Regions from separate parts of the Homo sapiens genome. Here region 2 is linked to region 1. Evidence: fine-mapped expression QTL. A gene starts in region 1. The other region holds a variant in brackets. All regions are shown on one strand. Distances are from middle to middle.

Evidence for each region. PIP is the estimated chance that this variant, and not a neighbour inherited with it, causes the effect.
Region 2: its variant is the best candidate, but not a certain one, in a credible set for the expression of LINC01011 in testis (GTEx, PIP 0.81).

Annotation. Positions count from the first base shown.
Region 1 is chr6:2,985,331-2,990,706 of GRCh38, reverse strand. It overlaps LINC01011 (long intergenic non-protein coding RNA 1011), which reads right to left and starts at 2,740. Exons shown (of 3, transcript NR_026856.1): 1 at 2,676-2,740; 2 at 974-1,179; 3 at 1-838. NQO2-AS1 (NQO2 antisense RNA 1) reads left to right here. Exons shown (of 2, transcript NR_186367.1): 2 at 696-1,371. RefSeq lists enhancers at 1-368, 646-805, 369-1,178, 1,179-1,988, 1,989-2,798 and a silencer at 1,376-1,795.
Region 2 is chr6:2,912,088-2,917,463 of GRCh38, reverse strand. No RefSeq gene overlaps it. Among named protein-coding and RNA genes, the nearest start is that of SERPINB9, 11 kb to the right of the region's middle. RefSeq lists an enhancer at 540-1,082. The variant G/T (reference allele first, on the strand shown) is at 2,943.

The DNA.
Region 1 (5,376 bases):
CTTAGCTAAGGAAGAGTCACTTCAGGTTAAAACAAGGTAGGGTATCCCACTAGAAGCCTCACATCATTAAGCTTCAGTCAGGCAGGCATTCCTTTAAAAAGTGTTTACTGAGTACCTTCTCTATGTCAGTCACTATTTGGGGCATAAAGGACTCACTTCTCCGCAAAAACAAACTCTGATCCCCCGGTCTCCTCGAGTCACGGAGCTTGCAAGCTAGTGGGAAAAATTGGGAACTGGTGCAAAGAATGACTGCAAAATAAATTGTGGTCATCTTGAAGACATATGCGTGCATGTGTGCGTGAAGCTTTTTAAATAGAGAAGCTTTAAGTGGGGGAAATTTGCTGACATTACACGATTTCTTCTCTTAGTGCAAATGTATACAGCCTGTCTTTTTGAAGGGGTCACGGTAGATAATTATGCTCTGTTAACCTCATTTGTTGTCAGGGAAAATTAAAACTAAGGGTAGTGTCAGTAGGAATCTTGGTTCCTGCCAGTTTTGTTGTTTGTTAGCATATCTTCCTTTACAGGTAGTATGGTTTCATTTTCGTAAAAATGCTGCATAAACGTGGCTGGGTATGTTACTCATTGCAGTGCCTGCTGATTTCGCTGGACCCCACCCTGCTTTTGCTGCCCAATGCGATAGCATATGGGACAGAGCTAAATTCCTACTCAGCTGTAACTCTGCTTATTTTCAGGAAAAAGAATGCCTGTGTTTCGAAGTTCCTTCTTAGGACGAAACCAGCTGAAGCTGGCGAAATCCAAGATGGCGCCTCTGAAGAGCCTCTGGCTTTATCATCATCCTGTTCTCATGCTAAACAACATGTCGCCATGACAACGACTGGAAGAGACCAAGAAGGGACAGAAAAAAAGGGGTTTCTTGATTCCGGGAAAAATCTCCGTTCTTTCCCAAGGAAAGCACGAATATTCCCCCCCGTGCTCTTAATGCCCAGCCCCTTCATTAAAGACACCCTACCTCTGAAACTTCCCAGCTCTCACAAGCTAAGTTGATTTCAGATCTTCCAATTCCATAGCCATTGAATACAGCCTGCACTGCTTGACACACTCCCTTTCGGTTTCGTGCATTGGCCTCACCACGCAACAGGAAACAACCCTTTTTGGGATAACCGGGACTCCCGGTAACATTTCCATATATACATATCTTAATGTATGCAAGGGCGTCTGGGGGAGAAAGAAGCAGCACATTTCATTCTTTGCTTTCTATAATACTGGATTGCTTGAGTTTGTGACACATGTTAACATTTGCAACATTTTTAAACTAAATTGTATGTATTATAGAACAGTCCTCTGCGCTGAGCTTGGACTTAAAGTGGAAAGGCTTACATTTGCAGAATTAAAAAAAGCATCGAAACATTCTGTGGCAGGAAGTCCTGCGAGCCTCCTCGCCCCAGCCCGGTTTCCCGCGGGCCCCAGCCTCATCCCCCAAGGCCCCACCCTGAGAGCCCCCAGGTCCCAGCCGCGTCCTCCTGGACCCCTCCCAGGCGTGGCGAGCCGGGTCGCGGGAGCGCTCCGCCACCAGGGGACAGTGCGGCGCCGACCGTGGGCTGCTGGCTCGGCCGAGGGCACCCAGGCGCCCTCCGCTGCAGCGGGCTGGTTGCAGAGGGGCGGGCTCTCGCCAGGCAGCAGGCGCTCCGGGCGCAGCTGGGAGGAAGGAACGCCCCCGGGAGTGGGCGGCGGCCGAGGGACCCTGCAACCGTCCTCCCTGGAGGAGGCCCCCGCAGCTCCCGCAGCCCCCCTCATCCCGGACGGGCCGGGGATTGGGACTGGCCTGGGGTCTCCTACTCTCCTACTCCGCGCAGGAAGTAGCCCCTTGGCAGGACCGGCGGTGCCTGCTGCTTTCAGGAGCCCCGAGCCGCTTTTGTCTGGGTGCAGCTCAGCTCACATCCCCGATGCAAGTCTTTCCCGGCTCGTCTCCCCTTCTTCCCGGAGTCCATGCCTTGCTGTCGGTGACTCATCCCACACTGTGCCCTGCGACTCACCCTGTCGCTTTCTCTGTTCATCCGGGAGCGCGGCGCCATCTCCCTCCAGCCCCGCCTCCCCTACAGTGCTCCGTGCTGAGGTCGCACGTTCTCTCCTCCCTCCAGCTCCCTGGCTCTTGGCCCTTCCCAGGCCACCAGGCGACAGCAGCCTCCGCCTTCATTTCCCTTGGTCATTTCAGGCGCATGCTTGGAGGATTTCAGGATCTGACTCAGCTTCCCCGCCATGCATCCCTCCACCAGCATCCAGTCACACCTCTGCAGCCTTCAGTGTCCTGGAAAGGACTGACCAATCTGACCCATTAGAACCTACCCAGACCAATTTGAAGGCCACTGCCCCTCAACCGTGGCCACCCACTCCTGCCCCACCTGGAGCCCCAAACTGCTCAGTTCCTTCTCTAAAACTCTGCCCTCTTTTGTTTGTTGTGAATAACTGTCTTCCCTGGTTCTTTCCACACCTCTCTGGCCTCTCCTTGTCTTTTTCTGGTTCTTTTTTTCTCTATTCTCCCTTATGCACTGGCCTTGCTGGAGGTCCCTGCTCTCCCTGCAAAACCTCACCACACCCTTGACTTCAGCTATATCCATTTCACCTCACGTTGACATCTGGTGCCTAGACCTCTCTCCCGAGCCTTCCACACCATGCCAAAAATGAAATTCATTTTCTCCTCTAAATTTGCTCACCTTCTTGTTTTCCCAATCTTATTTATTGTCACAGCCATTCCCCTGCTGGTCCAAGTCAGTAGTCTGAGAGTCATGCTAGACTCCTCCTTCCTTATCTACCCATCCACCAATCCCCAAGCCCTGTCTATCCTCCTTTTTTTTTTTTTTTTTTTCCAGTCAGAGTCTTGCTGTGTTGCCCAGGCTAGAGTGCAATGGCACGATCTCGGCTCACTGCAATCTTTGCCTCCCGGGTTCAAGTGATTCTCCTGCCTCAGCCTCCTGAGTAGCTGGGATTACAGGCGCATGTCACCACGCCCAGCTAATTTTTGTATTTTTAGCAGAGATGAGGTTTTGCCATGTTGGCCAGGCTGGTCTTGAACTGCTGACCTCGTGATCCGCCTGCCTCTGCCTCCCAAAGTGCTGGGATTACTGGCATGAGCCACTGTGCCTGGTCATCTATCCTCCTTTTTAAATAGCTCTGCCATGTGTGCCTGTCTCCCCTGACAGCTCACCCTCATCCTATTTGTCCACATTGCTGCAGAGTAGTCTCTTCCATACACCAGGAGTTCCCAACCCCCGGGCCACAGACCTGACTGGTCTGTAGCCTGTTAGGAACCAGGACACACAGCAAGAGGTGAGCCACCAGTGGGTGAGCTAGTGAAGCTTTATCTGTATGTGCAGCTGCTCCCCATTGCTTGCATTACCACCAGAGCTCTGCCTCCTATCAGATCAGGCAGCATTAGATTCTTATAGGAGCACAAACCCTACTGTGAACTGCACACATAAGGGATCTAGGATGTGCGCTCCTTATGAGAATCTAATGCCTGATAATCTGCCGTTGTCTTCATCACCCCCACATGGGGCCAGATAGTTGCAGGAAAACAAGCTCAGGGCTCCCACTGAAAATAAAGTGCACAAGAAGTGTCATGTGCTTGAATCATCCCGAAACCATCCTCTGCTGTCCAAGGAAAAATAGTTTTCCACAAAACCCCTCCCTGGTGCCAAAAAGGTTGGGATGGTTGCCATACATAACTCTGATGATGAGACCACGAAGCTCAGAATCCTCCAGAGGCTCTCCACTGCCTGTAAGATGAAATAAAATTTATGGGTGTGACTTATCCATAAGGGCCCAGTCTAAACTGCCTCATATTTAATTATATAGTAAGCTATTTGTTTCCTCAAACGTATATATTTTGGCCCATTTCCCAGTCTCCTAGGTTGGAATATGCTCTGTGTGTCACCTGGCCAGCTCATGCTCTTTCTCATTCTCAGCTCAAGTGTTAGGGACTCTATGACACCTTTCTTGATTCTCCCAGTCAGACATATTGTTGCTACTTTTTCTTAACACTTATCCTTTTATCCTTGGCACCACTAAAGCACATATCACATCAGATTTCACTTGTTTGCACATCTGTCTGGCATCTTGAGCCCAGGGACCGTGTCGCCTGTCTTCATGTCCCCAGGCCCTAGTGTAGCTCCCAGCCTATAGTGAGTGCAGAATAAAAGTTTGTAGAATGAGGCCAGGCGCGGTGGCTCATGCCGGTAATCCCAGCACTTTGTGAGGCCAAGGTGGGCAGATCACGAGGTCAGGAGTTTGAGACCAGCCTGACCAACATGGTGAAACCTCGTCTCTACTAAAAATACAAAAAATAGCCGGGTGTGGTGGCACGCGCCTGTAATCCCAGCTACTCAGGAGGCTGAGGCAGGAGAATCGCTCAAACCTAGGAGGTGGAAGTTGCAGTAAGCTGAGATCGCGCCACTGCACTCCAGCCTGTGCAACAGAGTGAGACTCTGTCTCAAAAAAAAAAAAAAAAGTTTGTAGAATGAATGAAACAATTAGTTACACCACAGTTAGTGAGTCATCGATACTTCATCAAGGCTGGGTATTTCGTATAATAAAGTTATTAAAGCTGATAAGCAAAGATCAAGTTACCCAAAGAACAGCACTGCCGGTGATCTAAAGGTCTTTGCCCTCAGGTTGCTTAGGTAACGGAAAGGATAAGAACTCCCCACTGTTCTGGGGCGGATCTTACATTGCTTTTGGAAGAGGCAATAGACTTGGGAAAGAAAGGAGTGTGTGTATTGAGGTATTGAGGGAATGGTTAGGTGGGAGGAGTCAGAGAGGAAGGCTGCAGTAGCCCCTCAGTCGACCCTGGCTGCTTTGTCCTTGGGGCTCAGTGAACAGATTATCTGTTTTCATGGTAAGGGGTTGGGATTCTCTACTTCAGGTGGGCACCCAGAAAGTGAATTGCTCGCCTTTGTTTAAAAATAATGAAAATGGGCCGGGCGCGGTGGCTCATGCCTGTAATCCCAGCACTTTGGGAGGCTGAGGCAGGTGGATCACCTGAGATCAGGAGTTTGATACCAGCCTGGCCAACATGGTGAGACCCCGTCTCTATTAAAAATACAAAAATTAGCCAGGCGTGGTGATGGGTGCCTGTAATCGCAGCTACTCAGGAGGCTGACACAGGAGAATCACTTGAACCCAGGAGGCGGAGGTTGCAGTGAGCTAAGATCTTGCCACTGCACTCCAGCCTGGGCTACAGAGCAAGACTCTGTCTCAAAAACAAACAAACAAAAAACCCAAAAATAATGAAAATGTCTGCCCACCCTTCACTAAGTAAACATAATGAAAATGCACATCTTGTGCCCTCTTTTGCTTTTATTCTATAATACCCAAGCCTACGTTTTGGAACTAAACCCCACGCCCTTTGTGTGAAAG
Region 2 (5,376 bases), 73 kb after region 1:
TGAATGCCTTCTAGATTTACTGGGAGAGGTCCATCCATGTCCAAAGTTCCAACTCTCTTACAATCTTTAATGTGCAAATGGGAGTGGAGTACCAAGAAGAACCTGAGGGGGCGGAGAAGAGAGTCGCCCTGTTGTCTCCTTCCAGCGTCAGCCTAACCATCAGTGTGAGCTGGGACACACCCCCAAGGCACACTTGTGTGTGAGTGTGTGCATGTGTGTGTGTCATTGCTATGGGGTAGATAATGACCAGTACCTACAGGCTGGAAAGGAAAGAGGTGAGGAAGTGAGAGGGAGGAAGAGGGAAGACAGGAGAGGCCAGAAGTACGTGATTGTAAGGAATTAAGAGCAGTTTAATGGAGAGTCAACATTGATGGGTACTCCAGTTCATTCCTTTGCCTGTTCCGACAGGATGATTATACACACACACACACTCCAGCCTAGGTTTATGACTGCCTCACCTGGATGGTAAAGCTCCACTTGCAGGTAGAGTCCAATTCAAATGTTATTTGGGTCTCTGTCATCTCTGTTTTCTCATCCTCATTGAGTCTCTTTTGCTAATGCCATCCCTGGTGGGCCAGTGCCCTCAGTGTGAGTATTTCTTCTGGCTTCCTAGCCTTTTATTTCCTTCAAGAGTAAGGTGAGATTGAGCATGGCAGAAGCAGCCTGGACACAGACCAGACCCTGCTGTGCTGGAGACACTACAGACACCAACCTTCTAGCAGCTGCTGCCCTGGAAGGCTCCCCAGAGGCTTGATTATTTGAGGACAATGGATGAACTTTCACATTTTGTTCTAGAATCATGACCTATTATGTGTAGGGTACTGTTGTGCAAATATCACTAGATGGCATTTTCTTGGCTGACATTTTCACTCATTGAAATGTAAAAGAATTTGCACTGATTGGCCTGTTTGTTGTTCTGTATGTAAAAATGGCCTTCACGCCTTTTTTAAGTGTGAGGCACTCCCTTTTAAAAAATATTTTAGCAGAAAGCTAAAACAAAACATCTGACAGTGGAGGTGCACTCTTTGAAATAATTGTCTCCCATCTCCCGCCTCATCCACTCAGCTCCTTTTCCTTCCCATCGTGCCCCTGAGAGACTCAGAAGACCCCTGCTAAGGCTTAAGGGAGTATAGCCTCACAACTGCAGGGTGAGGCACTGCAGTCCACTGGTGATGTGGAAGAAGCAAGATCAGGGGATGATACCCTGTTTATAAAAGTCAGCACATGCATGATGATCCTTATCTCTGCATAGAGTTTTCTGTAATTCTTGCTTTGCATATTTTCTAATTTTCCAAATGGAAACATACATTTCTTATGTGGCTTTAAAAAATGTGAGCAAAATATACATGCATATGATAAAAGAGAGGATAACATAATATAGAAAAATAGCTTGCAGGGTTATTGGATTGTGGATGATTTGTCTCTTCATTTCCTAAAATGTCCTCAATAGTAACAGCAAAGAGACTTTGGGAAACAGAGGCACATGGATGAACTTTAATATTTTATTGAATAGTGACCCAGCCAAAGAGAATCCTACTCTACTATTATTAGGTAAGGCTTAATAGAAAGATATAATTAGGCCAGGTGTGGTGGCTCACGCCTGTAATCCTAGCACTTTGGGAGGTCAAGGCAGGTGGATCACTTGAGGTCAGGAGTTCGAGACCAGCCTGGGCATCATGGCGAAACCCCACCTCTACCAAAAATACAAAAATTAGCTGGGTGTGGTGGTGCAGGTCTGTGGTCCCAGCTACTCGGGAGGCTGAGGCAGGAGAATTGCTTGAACTTGGAAGGCAGAGGTTGCAGTGAGCCGAGATCGTGCCACTGCAGTCCAGTCTAGGTGACAGAGCAAGCCTTTGTCTAGGAAAAAAAGAAATAATTAATGTTGGACTTATAAAAATTTGCTAAAATTATAATAACTGATAGTAACCTGTAGTAACTTTTGATTTAGTAATAAAGTTTCTCTCAGGCACATCTTTTCCTTCTACCTTCCAGGGTGCACATGGGTGATCCAGCCACTCTCACATGGAAGCATACCTCCTGGACCTGCCCCAAGTGATGTGTCGACTGGCCCCAAATCAACACCTCCAACTCAAGTTTCCACGTGGGATTTGGGCTTCATATTTGATGTCTATGCCAAGGCTGCCCTGGACAGCTCCCTAGCCTAGTTTCAGCAACTCCGGGGGAAGTGGTACCTCTCTGTGGACTCTCCCAGATTTAAAGTAACTGTCTCTTCAACATAGCCCTTATTTTACATCTCAAATGGACCCTTCAGATTTGGTGAGATCTGTCCAGCTGTTTCACATGACATGGTGACAGAAATGTAGTTTTTAGTTTTATTTTTTAGAAATGTAGCTTTGGCCCGGCACGGTGGCTCACACCTGTAATCCCAGCACTTTGGGAGGCCGAGGCAGGTGGATCACCTGAGGTCAGGAGTCCAAAACCAGCCCGAACAAGATGTTGAAACCCCATCTCTACTAAAGATACAAAAATTAGCCGGGCCTGGTGGTGCATGCCTGTAATCACAGCTACTTGGGAGGCTGAGGCAGGAGAATCACTTGAGCCCGGGAGGCAGAGGTTGCAGTGAGCTGAGATTGCGCCACTGCACTCCAGCCTGGGTGACAGAGTGAGGCTGTCTCAAAAAAAAAAAAAAAAAATGTAGTTTTTATTTACAGAGAATTACATTCTTTATTCACAGAACAGTGGTTACAAATTATATTAGTGACACCAAATTGGGAAGGAGCTAGCAGCAATCGGGATTTTATGGAATGATCAAGGATGCAGGCTGTGGAATCAAATCACAGTTTCCAACCCTGACTTCATTGACACCAACCACCTAGGAGATCGGGAACAAACTCAGTCTCCTCATCTTGGTGGGTACTTACTGCAGGGCCTCGGTGTGTGATAGTGAGGGTTAGCTGAGAGGCACATAAAGAACTTAGGGC[G/T]GTGCCTGTTTGCACTAGGGGCGGGTACAGCCAGCTGGTCTCTGAGGGTGCCTGTGAGCCCTGCAGCAGTCCTGTTGCTGAGGCCCCATATTGGCTACTCTGTGACTAAGCCAGTGTATTCGTTTCCTATTGCTGCCATCACAAATTACCTCAAACCTCAAATGGCTGAAAACAACCGAGCTTTACACCGTACAGCTCTGAAGTCAGAACTCCAAAACGGGTCAGCTGGGTTGATTCCTCCCAAGGCTCCGGGGAGAATCTGCTTCCTGGCCTTTTCCAGCTCCTAGAGGCCGCCTGTGTTCCATGGCTTGTGGCTCCGCATCACCCTGACCTCTGCCTCTGTCCTCACGTCTCCTCTGGCTGTGGCCCTCCTCCCTCTCTCATGAGGACCTGTGATCACACTGAGCCCACCCAGATGATCTATAAGAATGATTTGTGATCCTAATGTCTAAAAATGGAGTGGCTTGTGTTATGTGTGTAAACCAAAAATAAAATTCTAAGCCCTCAGTCCTCTATATGGACCCGTCCTCTCGGTAAAGGCCCAAAGCTAACTTGCAAACTAGTTCAGGCCATGATGGGAAGGGGAGCCGGACATGCCTCATTATGCAGTCTTCCGTTTTGGAATTACTGATAGAGCAGACTCTTTAAGTCTGATAAGAAACATTTACGGTTTATTATGTCTCACACCTGCTACCTGGAGGCTTCACCTGCATGATAAAAGCTTGGTGTCCACAACCCCTTATCATCATCCAGACATTCCTTTCTATTGATTCAGAAAACCTCTGGGTTTGCCTATGACCTGGAAGCCCCTGCTTCCAGTTGTCCTGCCTTTCCAAACCAAAGTACATCTTACACGTATTGATTGATGTCTCATGTCTCCCTAAAATGTATAAAACCAAGCTGTGTCCTGACCTTGGGCACCTGTTCTCAGGACCTCCTGAGGCCGTGTCATCGGCATGCCCTTAACCTTGGCAAAATAAACCTCTAAATTGATCCAGACTTGCCTCAGATACTTTTTGGTTTTCAAGTGGCATGAAGCCCACAGTGAAGTTGTTTACTCCTTAAAGTGGTAAGCGTATGTGTACTAGACTGAGCCTGAGCTCATAGTAAAGTTGTTTTTCTTTAAGGCGATAAACATATGTATAAGAGATGAGATTACATTTGCTGTGGCATGTACCACTTGAGACCCAAAAGGAACCGATAGAAAATGGAGCCAAAAGGTGGCTGAGATGATGATGACGGACACACCTGGGGAAAACCATAAAACCAGCAAGGAACTGACACTGTCAGAGGCACCTTGAGAATTCCTGCCTGTAGGAGACATCACACTCTGGGGACTGTTGTGGGGTGGGGGGAGGGGGGAGGGATAGCATTAGGAGATATACTTAATGTTAAATGACGAGTTACTGGGTGCAGCACACCAACATGGCACATGTATACATATGTAACTAACCTGCATGTTGTGCACATGTACCCTAAAACTTATAATAGAAAAAAAAAAGTGCCTCCTCCCGGTGAGACGGGCTGCCCAGAGGCTCTGTGTGAGAGGAGTGTCTGCTGTGCTGGCCTCCTCAGCCACAGCCTGGGTTTGCCATTCCGCTCATTACTGCCTTTAGTAATTGTATCATGTCATTCCCATCACTCACAGGAAAAGAAACAATGAAAAAAATAATTGTATTGTGAATGTTTGCTCGATTGATTGGGTATGTGTGAGTCTCTGGCAATAAACCATATTTAAGCATTGCAAATTGGCTACCGGGTCATTGGGAAACCTGGCTTTGATCTGAGCACACAGGCCAGAAGAACCTGATTACAATAACATTTAAAATGAACATAATACCAGATAACCAGCACGTCTCCCATCTCAAGATTCTTAACTAGAGGGACCACATCGGCAAAATCTCTTTTGCCATGTAAGACAGTCACTGGTTTTGGGGATTAGGAGGTAAGACATCTTTGGCAAGGGGCATTATTCTGCTGGCTACACCCCAGTGTTCACTGACTGGGGACTGACGACTAGGTGGCCATAGAGGGCTTGGTTGATGTGCTTCTGATCCAGACCTTCCCTGGTGGATGAATTCAGGTGCAGATGGCACTTTTTTTTTTTTTTTTTTTTTTTTTTTGGAGACAGTCTCACTCTTTCACCCAGGCTGGAGTGCAGTGGTGCAATCTCGGCTCACTGCAACCTGCACCTCCTGGATTCAAGTGATTCTCCTGCCTTAGCGTCCTGAGTAGCTGGGATTACAGGTGTGTGCCACCACGCCTGGCTAATTTTTTGTATTTTTAGTAGAGACAGGATTTCACCATGTTGGCCAGGCTGGTCTCGAACTCCTGACCTCAAGTGATCCACCCGCCTCAGCCTCCCAAAGTGCTGGGATTACAGACGTGAGCCACTGCGCCCTGCCCAGATGGCACTTTTGCCAGCAGTTTATTA